Regions from separate parts of the Homo sapiens genome. Here region 2 is linked to region 1. A link means that fine-mapping ties the variant in region 1 to the expression of a gene that starts in the linked region. Tissue or cell type: whole blood. Region 1 holds a variant in brackets; the other region holds the start of a gene. All regions are shown on one strand. Distances are between the middles of the regions.

Region 1 (5,154 bases):
GGTTGGGCAGAGGCCTTCCCTTGTAGGACAGAAAAGGACCAAGATGTAATAAAGGCACTAATTCATGAAATAATTCCCAGATTCGGACTTCCCCGAGGCTTACAGAGTGACAATGGCCCCGTTTTCAAGGCTACAGTAACCCAGGGAGTATCCCAGGCATTAGGCATACAATATCACTTACACTGCGCCTGGAGGCCACAATCCTCAGGAAAAGTCAAGAAAATGAATGAAGCACTCAAACGACATTTAAAAAAGCTAACCCAAGAAACCCACCTTGCATGGCCTGCTCTGTTGCCTACAGCCTTACTAAGAATCCAAAACTCTCCCCAAAAAGCAGGACTTAGCCCATACAAAATGCTGTATGGATGGCCCTTCCTAACCAAGGACCTTGTGCTTGACCGAGAGATGGCCAGCTTAGTTGCAGACATCACCTCCTTGGCCAAATATCAACAAGTTCTTAAAACATTACAGGGAACCTGTTCCCGAGAAGAGGGAAAGTAATTATTGCACCCTGGTGACATGGTATTAGTCAAGTCCCTTCCTTCTAAGTCCCCATCCTTAGATACATCCTGGGAAGGACCCTACCCAGTCATTTTATCTACCCCAACTGCGGTTAAAGTGGCTGGAGTGGAGTCTTGAATACATCACACTCGAGTCAAACTCTGTATACTGCCAAAGGAACCCGAAAATCCAGGAGACAACGCTAGCTATTCCTGTGAACCTCTAGAGGATCTGCACCTGCTCTTCAAGCGACAACCGTGAGGAAAGTAACTAGAATCGTAGATCCTCATGGCCCTCCTTGTCATATTTTTTTCTTTACTGTTCTCTTACCCCCTTTCACTCTCACTGAACCCCCTCCATGCCACTGTACTACCAGTAGCTCCCATTACCAAGAGCTTCTATGGAGAATGCGGCTTCCTGGAAATATTGATGACCCATCGTATAGGAGTTTTTCTAAAGGAAACCCCATTTTCACCACCCACACCTATATGACCCTGCACTTCAGGCCATACATTTCAATCCCTGTATCTTTAACCTCCTTGTTAAGCTTGTCTCTTGCAGAATCGAAGCTGTAAAACTACAAATGCTTCTTAAAATAGAGCCCCAGATGCAGTCCATGGCTAAGATCTACCACGGACCCCTGGACCGGCCTGCTAGCCCATGCTCTGATGTTGATGACATTGAAGGCACGGCTTCCGAGGAAATCTCAACTGCACGACCCCTACTACACCCCAATTTAGCGGGAAGCAATTAGAGCAGTCATTGGCCAACCTCCCCAACAGCACTTACTCTAAGCGATGTAACTCAGGAATGGAAAGCCAAACATCGTATGTTCTTACTGATATGTGGGAGCTAAGCTATGAGGACACAAAGGCATAAGAATGATACAATGGACTTTGGCAACTTGGGGGAAAGAGTGGGAGGGGGCGAGGGATAAAAGACTACAAATATGGTGCAGTGTATACTGCTTGGGTAATAGGTGCACCAAAATCTCACAAATCACCACTAAACAACTTATTCATGTAACCAAATACCACCTGTATCCCAATAACTTACAGAAAAATAAAGTAACTAAAAGAGAATAGGCCATGTGCATTGGCTCATGCCTGTAATCCCAGAACTTTGTGAGGCTGAGATGGGTGGTTCATTTGAGGTCAGGAGTTTGAGACCAACCTGGTCAACATGGTGAAACCCTGTCTCTACTAAAAATACAAAAATTAGCCAGGCATGGTGGCACATGCCTGTAATTCCAGCTACTCAGGATGCTGAGGCAGGAGAATCGCTTGAACCCAGGAGTTGGAGGTTGCAGTGAGCCAAGATCATGTCATTACCCTCCAGCCTGGCAAGAGAACGAGAATCTGTCTCAAAAATTTTTTTAAAAAAGAATAAATAAAAGAATATAATTGGATTGTTTGTAATACGAAGGATAAATGCTTGAGGTGATGGATACCCCATTTACCCTTATGTGATTTTTACACACTGCATGTCTGTATCAAAATATTCCATATACCCCATAAATATACATGTAATATGTACCCACAGAAATTAAAACTTAAAAAACGACATAAGAGTTCAAAACCTATGGAATGCATCTAATGAAGTGGTTGGAGAATAATGTATAGCTTTAAATGTCTATATTACAAAAGAAGAAAAGTCTCAAATTAATAACCTAAACTTTCTCTTTTTTTGTTGAAAAGGGTGTCCTTTCCTTACTTTATGTTTTAGTTTGCTTTGTCAAAGATCAGTTGGCTGTAAGTATTCAGCTTTATTTCTGGGTTCTCTATTCTGTTCCATCGGTCTATGTGCCTATTTTTATACCAGTACCA[C/T]GCTGTTTTGGTGACTATGGCCTTATAGTATAGTTTGAAATCAGGTAGTGTGATGCATCCAGATTTGTTCTTTTTGCTTAGTGTTGCTTTGGCTATGCGTGTTTTTCTTTTTCTTTTTTGGTTCCATATGAATTTTAGAATCATTTTTTCTAATTCTGTGAAGAATGGTGGTGGTATTCTGATGGGGATTGCATTGAATTTGTTGACTGCTTTAGTCAGGATGATCATTTTCACAATATTGATTCTACCCATACATGAACATGGGATGTGTTTCCATTTGTTTGTGTCATCTATGATTTCTTTCAGCAGTGTTTCATAGTTTTCCTTGTAGAGGACTTTCAACTCCTTTGTTAGGTATATTCCTAAGTATTTTATTGTTTTGCAGCTATTGTAAAAGGGGTTGAGTTCTTGATTCGACTCTCTGCTTGGTGGCTGTTGGTGTATAGAAGAGCTACTGATCTGTGTAGATTAATCTTGTATCCATAAACTTTGCTGAATTATTTTATCAGTTCTAGGAGCTTTCTAGAGGAGTCCTTAGGGTTTTCAAGGTAAACGATCATATCATCAGCAAATAGTGACAGTTTGACTTCCTCTTTACCGATTTGGATGCCCTTTATTTCTTTCTCTTGTCTGATTGCTCTGGCTAGGACTTCCAGTACTATGGTGAAGAGGAGTGGTGAGAGCGGGCATCCTTGTCTTGTTCCAGTTCTCAGAAGGAATGCTTTCAACTTTTCCCCATTCAGTATTATGTTGGCTGTGGGTTTGTTATAGATGGCTTTTATTACATTGAGGTATGTCCTTTTTATGCCAATTATGCTGAGAGTTTTAATCATAAAGGGATACTGGATTTTTTCAAATGTTTTCTCTGCATCTGTTGAGATGATCATGTGATTCTTCTTTTTTATTCTGTTTATGTGGTGTATCACATTTATTGACTTGCGTATGTTAAACCATACCTGCATCCCTGGTATGAAACCCACTTGATCATGGTGGATTATCTTTTTGATATGTTTTTGAATTCTGTTAGCTAGTATTTTGTTAAGGATTTTAGCATCTATGTTCATCAAGGATATCAGTCTATAGTTTTCTGTTTTGGTTATGCCCTTTCCTGGTTTTGGTATTAGGGTGATGCTGGCTTCATAGAATGAATTAGGGAGGGTTCCTTCTTTCTCTGTCTTGTATAATAGTGTCAAAAGGATAGGTACCAATTCTTCTTTGAATGTCTGGTAAAATTCTGCTGTGAATCCATCTGGTCCTGGATTTTTTTTGTTGGTAATTTTTTAATTACCATTTCAATCTCACTCCTTGTTATTGGTCTGTTCAGGATATCTAATTCTTCCTGATTTAAGCTAGGAGGATTTTATTTTTTCAGGAATTTATACATCTCTTCTAGGTTTCCTATTTTATGTGCATAAAGGTGTTCATAGTAGCCTTGAATGATCTTTTGTATTTCAGTGGTGTCAGTTGTAATATCTCCTGTTTTGTTTCTTAGTGACATTATTTGGATTTTCTCTCTTCTTTTCTTGTTTAATCTTGCTAATGGTCTTTCCTTTTTATTTATCTTTTCAAAGAACCAGCTTTTTGTTTCATTTATCTTTTGTATTTTTTTGGTTTTGAATTTCATTTAGTTCTGCTCTGATCTTGGTTATTTCCTTTCTTCTGCTGGGTTTGGGTTTTGTTTGTTCTTGTTTGTCTGGTTCCTTGAGGTGTAACCTTAGATTGTCTGTTTATGCTCTTTCACACTTTTTGATATGGGCGTTTATGGCTATGAACTTTCCTCTTAGCACTGCCTTTGCTGTATCCTAGAGGTTATCATAGGCTGTGTCACTATTGTCATTCAGTTCGGAGAATTGTTTAATTTCCATCTTGATTTTGTTTTTGACCCAGTGCTCTTTCAGGAGCAGGTTATTTAATTTCCATGTATTTGCATGGTTTTGAAGGTTCTTTTTGGAGTTGATTTCCAGTTTTATTCTACCATGGTCTGAGAGAGTGCTTGATATAATTTCAATTTTCTTAAATTTATAGAGACTCATTTTATGGCCTATCATATTGTCTATCTTGGAGAAAGTTCCATGTGCTCTTGAGTAGAATGTGTATTCTGCGGTTGTTGGATGAAATGTTATGTATATATCTGTTAAGTCCATTTGTTCCAAGGTATAGTTTAAACCCATTGTTTCTTTGGTGACTTTCTTTCTTGATGACTTGTCTAGTGCTGTCAGTGGAGTATTGAAATCCCCTACTATTATTGTGTTACTGTCTATCTCATTTCTTAGGTCTGTTAGTAATTGTTTTATAAATTTTGGAGCTCCATTTGTTAGGTGCATATATGTTTAAGATTGTGATATTTTCCTGTTGAACAAGGCCTTTTACCATTATGTATTGTCCCTCTTTGTCCCTCTTTTACCATTATATACTGTCCCTCTTTTCACCGCTGTTGCTTTTTGTTTTGTCTGATATATGAATAGCTACCCCTGCTCGCTTTTGGTGTGCATTTGCATGAAATGCCTTTTTTCCACTCCTTTATTTTAAGTTTATGTGAGTCCTTATGTGTTAGGTGAGTCTCCTGAAGGCAGCAGATAGTTGTTTGGTGAGTTCTTATCCATTCTGCTGTTCTGAATCTTTTAAGTGGGACATTTACAGCATTTACATTCAATGTTATTATTGAAATATGAGGTATAGTTGCTTTCATCATGCTCTTTGTTGCCTGTGTAGTTTGAGGTTTTTGTTTTGTTTTGTTTTGTTTTGCTTTTTAACTTGTATTTTTGTTTTATAGATCCTCTGTGATTTATGCTTTAATGAGGTTCTGTTTTGGTGTGTTTCCAAGATT
Region 2 (5,154 bases), 95 kb before region 1:
TATTGTACATTTTCAACTATGGAAAAAACTGTGTGCTGCACAAAGTGCTTAAGAACTACATTAGAAATAAAATGGAAATAAGAAGTTAAGAATTTACCATTTCATTAAGATGAAGAGAATGACCAAAAAAAAAAAAAAAAAAGATTCCTCTCTTCTTTGCTAACGTTGAGATGTTTGCCCTACTCAAATTAGGTGGGACAAAGTAATCACAACTCAGAGGGCACAGAGTGAAAGGCAGAATTTGTAATTTAAAGTATATGATTCACATTCGAATCCACATTAATTAAGATTTAAAAATTCAAGAGATAGGCAACTCAGATAATTAAAAGCAGGGAGCAATCAGAAATACTGAACAGCAAGCAGTTCCTAAACCATATAAATTCAATAAGTTCAAGACAAATAAAATAAAAATCAGAAACCATTTTCCCCTCAGCACACAGAGTTCCCCAGAATCACAAACTTGATGAACTGGAGGCACTCACTCTGCTGACGCACACACGCAGGCTCGCGCACACAATGGAGCGAGAAGCATGGAGACCCTCAGAGACAAACTTCACATGTGCATCGTTTTACTCTCCACAGAATGGAAAGAAGAGCACGGTGAGAAAATGTCACTTTTTCCCAGATCAAACAGCAAAACTGTACTTAGTATTGTGAACTATGAATTCCCTTGATACAATCAAAGGCAGAACTGAATGAATGGGGTGTGGGGCAGGGTGCGTGGGGAAAAGAAGGAGGGAAGGAGAGGGGAGGCCGCCTGAGAGGAAGAAAGTTTAAGGCATTTTGCAAGGCTTGAGTGGATTAATCTTTTTTTTTAAGCCCTACTATTTCCTATTTCCCTTTCTCTCTCTCTCTTTATTTAATATACACTAACTTCCTGAGACTCAACCCAGACTTGCCCTAAATGCAGCTGAAATGTCTGGTGTTTAGGACACACCAAGAGTTCTAGGTGCACAAATAAATCCCATTTTGGGAAAGAATTTAAAAATCACTTTTGTGGACATTCATAAAATGAGAACACTGAAAAAAAAAAAAAAACTCCATGTATCAATAAGTAAATTGAGGCCCCAGTCTACAGCTCTTTGATTTCTACTAGAAATATAAGCTATTTACTATAAACATTTTATTTTTGAACTTCAAAAAAGTTTGTTTTCACATTTTAGATCATGAAAGACTGAGGCTTCAGTGGTTTTAGCCCCTAAATGGGTTGTTTAGGCCATCTAGCAAAGGAAAAAAAAATAGAACATGAATGCTTTAAAAAGTTAGTAAATTTGGATAACACTTAGCAGATAGCCTAAAATGCACCGATTTAAAAACATAACAGCATAAAAAGTTTTCTGACATAGCTTATCTTTAATAAAATGAAAATATAATGGGAGGGGGTTGGGCTGGGTAGACTTCGAGTAACAAGTTGGGTCCCATGCAGTAGTCCCTTGTCCAAGACAAAAAGCTTCCTTTAACCACATGTAACAGTCATCTTGTGGGAAAGGCACGGAGGGGGCTGAGAAGTCATCACCTCAGTGACTCTGAACAGAACCAGCATTTCTCACGCCACACTATGGGCTGGGCTAGGTCGGGGAGCAAGCTACAACTTTGCCCTTAAGCAGCAGTACCGAAAGGGAGAAAGAGGTCACCTCTCTCTTAGCCCTACGCACACAGGAAGAGCCCAATTCAAGCCGCCGCCGCCGCCACCCCTGGTGTTGCCCCGCCCCAACTTGAGTGTGTGTTTGGGGTGGGGGGTGTAGGGCACTCACTACTCGCGTTATACCCCACAAATTCCAAGGCACTTCCATCTCTCCCAGGTTAAGTTCCGCCCCCCCATCCCCAACCGTGCCAAGCTCAGCAGGCGCAGGTGTCTGTGGCTCTGGCCTATTTTTATACCCCCAACCGCCCTCAATCTCCACCTAGTTGCGCGCTCCAGTCCCGCCTCGCCTTCCCAGCGAAGAGCACTACCTAGCCTACACACCAGGAAACACCTCCAGCCCTACTCCCAGGTCACCTGGCCATAGTGACCGGCCCTGCCCTCAGGGGAGCCCTGGGGCCGTCCCTTGTCGCCGGTGCCCAGCACCGAGGGCGCACCGGGCTCCCAAGCAGTCACGTGGGCGGCGGGGGCGGCCTGCGCTTCCTCACCTGCATCCCAGGCACTTGGACAGCCACCGGCGAGTGGGCCATGGAGGCGAATGCTGCCTCGCTCCGCTTCTGCGGCGGTGGCGCCTTGGGTTCGGACTGGCTCCTCCCTCCGGGGGTAGTTCGGCGGCCCTCCCAGGCTTTTCGATCGGGGCCTGGGAGGACACACAAAAGTGGGGTTACTGGGCTGGCGGCGCGTAGCCCGGGGCTAGGAGGTGGGCTGTTAGCGGCGCAGCTCCCTGGGACTCAGTCTACCTTTCTGGCGCCCGCCCGCCGCTGAAGCAGCCGCCTCCGCTGCTGCTCCTCTTCCTGAACGCCGAGCGCTGTGAGTGGTGGTGGCTGGGACCTGGGCTCGAGTGATGCCGCTCCTCTGCGCCTCGCCGCTTTAGGAAGAGGAGGTGGAGGCGCCCCAGCCACCCGCCTGCTCGCCTGGCCTGGGAGGCGGTTGGGGGCGGTTCCGCCGTTGGCCCTGCCCCCGCCCCGCAGCCGGGCGGTGTCGCGGGAGCCAAGGCTCCAGGCAGCGAAGAGGTTTGGCTGGGGTTGCTGGAGTCTGAGAAGCTGGAGACTCTCCCGGCACGCGGAGAGGAGAACCCGGGGACCCGGAGACCTGGGACATGGCTGGGCCTGGGAAGAGAATGGAAGAGTTTGGGAAACCCTGAGGGTATGAGGGCGCCCCAGATGCGGCCACGTTGCAGGGAGGCGTGCGAGGCTGGGGCACACGCAGCCTCGGAGACGACTTGAGCTGAAACTTGGGGAGTGTTGGAAGTCTTTCTTGGCTCCCCGGCCTGGCCAAGGGTAGGATTACAGATAGCCGCGGAGTCGGTGGACCCCCGCTTTTTCCCGCCATCTGGTCTCCTCAGCTGGGGGTCGCGCCTCTGGGCAGATCTGTGGCCACACTCTTGCTTTCCGAGTTCCCTGACCCCAAACATGCTTCAGGTGACTTCAACTTAAGGTTCCCCCTACCTCCTGGGCTATCCCTTGCAGAACGGCCAAACTAGGGCTTCTCTCTACCACAAGTTCTGCACGTGTAAGGCAGAGGGAAATTGGAAAACAGATGGTACATCGGCAGAAAAATTAATGAGGATAGTAGAGGCTTGGGAAATGAGATTGGATCGTTAGCAGTACAGGTTATTGAAATCAGCATACACTGCAGTGGTTTTGGTAACTCCCTGCCTCCGCCCCATTTTAAGTTCTACTCCAGGAGAGGGAGACAGGCTCTTTTGAGAGTACTCTAACAGTAGCGACAGTAACACTGGTAATAATAGTAACAGGAATTTCATTATGAAGGCACCTTTGGGAACACGTAAGGGGTTAATTACTTTTTAAAAAAGTAATAGTCGAGTGCCAGTTTAAAATGAAGATGAAGTTCCTTACCTTGAAATTTGTTATGGGTCTCTACGCACCACACGGTGGGGGGCCTCTAGTGGTAAAAGATAGTTTCTCTTCTTCCTTTTAAATCTTTTTCAGAGAATAGTATATAATTCTTATCAATATCGTTATTATTAATGGATATTATTTTCATTGTGCCAGGGACTGCTAAGTGCTTTCTATGTGTTATTAATACCTTACTGAACCTGTACAAGGGCCTTCTGGAGTCTTATTGATTTCCCCTCATTTTACAGATGAAGAAAAAGGCTCAACCAGGTTAAATAATTTGACCGAAATGTCACGCAATTAAGAAGTGGTACAGCTGGGAATTCAGACGCAGGTCCCTCTGACTGGTGATAAACTTACTACTTTCTCTATGGTTTCTGTTTGTGTTTAATGATGATAAAAGGTACAATTGCATTTTCCTTACTCCTAGTTCCCCAAGTCCAGCCCTTCACTATTTCTAACCTAATGTTAGGCTCCAATCTAGTCTCGATTTCCCACCAACCCAGCTCACAACATTGCCAGCCTGACCGGAAACCTGCAGTGCCACCTAAACTTTTAATGTCCATAGAAATCCGAGGGTTCTTTTGCTCCCTCAAAAGCGCAGATTTTTATCTCCCATGTCTGGACTGGGCCCAAGATTCTGCAATGCTAACAAGCTCTCACATGGTGATGATGTTTAGATCACACTTTTAAGTCGCAAGGGTCTGAATCAAGCTCCATCATTTAAGACCTGTCTCAAATCTCACCTCCATTGACCCTTCCTAGTTGCTCCAAGCCCTCCTTCAAACTCCTCCAATGTGAGCAGCGCTCACACTGTAGTTCTTTCTTCTTATTTCATATATTTCATTTGTTTTGTGTGCCCATATTAGGTCCTTGAGGGCAGAGATCCAGCCTCTCTTACATGAGAATGATTCAGGTAGGATGGCAGGAGTCTGAGGGCAAGCTTTTTATACATTTTGTCCATTGCTGTATCCCCAGAGACTAGGTTCATGGCATGTAGTAGGCCCTCAATAAATAATTGTTGAATGAATGAATGAACTTCTTTTGAATTCTCCACTGAGGTTACTAGGTGCATAATGTATACACTATATATTTTATTGATGTCAGGTTAAACCCCTAGGCATTGCCCTTACTGAACATTTAAATTGTTCAGTTTATTGTGTGTTACATCTTTCATTATTTAGTCTCCAAAATTCTTTCCTGCTAGTTTAATTTCACAACTACTTATGAGCCAGTTGTATAATTTTGATAGATAAGTAAATTAAGCATATCAGAGAAATGACTTTCTCTGACATCATTCTGGGCCAGAGTTATGTAACTATGTGGAAGAATAAAAGCTTAATGCTGAGACCTGGAATATTGAGACATTTCCTGAAAGACATTGCATTTGAGATCTTAGTGAGCTTTTTAGCCTTTATTTAGGTTTACTGCTATTAAATAAAGCATCAGTTGTTGTTATAATTGATAGAGATCACTTGAGTTTTTACATGGGATTGCTTGTGGGCTTTTAAATGATTTTTCCTGTGTGTGTGTGTGTGTGTGTCTGTGTCTGTGTGTGTGTGTGTATCTATAAATTAAATCTTGTGAAGGTGTCAACATTTGAAAACAATTCAAATTTTATGAGCATTAGAAACTTTTTTTCCACTTTGAACT

What was found. PIP is the estimated chance that this variant, and not a neighbour inherited with it, causes the effect.
Region 2: it holds the start of STK26, and the variant in region 1 is fine-mapped to the expression of STK26 in whole blood (TOPMed, PIP above 0.99).

What each region holds. Positions count from the first base shown.
Region 1 is chrX:131,925,383-131,930,536 of GRCh38, reverse strand. No RefSeq gene overlaps it. Among named protein-coding and RNA genes, the nearest start is that of STK26, 95 kb to the left of the region's middle. The variant C/T (reference allele first, on the strand shown) is at 2,328.
Region 2 is chrX:132,020,636-132,025,789 of GRCh38, reverse strand. It overlaps STK26 (serine/threonine kinase 26), which reads right to left and starts at 2,488. Exons shown (of 12, transcript NM_016542.4): 1 at 2,383-2,488; 2 at 2,131-2,282. The coding sequence starts at 2,172. RefSeq lists enhancers at 1,807-1,876, 1,846-2,393, 2,247-2,406, 2,857-2,906, 2,394-2,940 and a silencer at 2,447-2,696.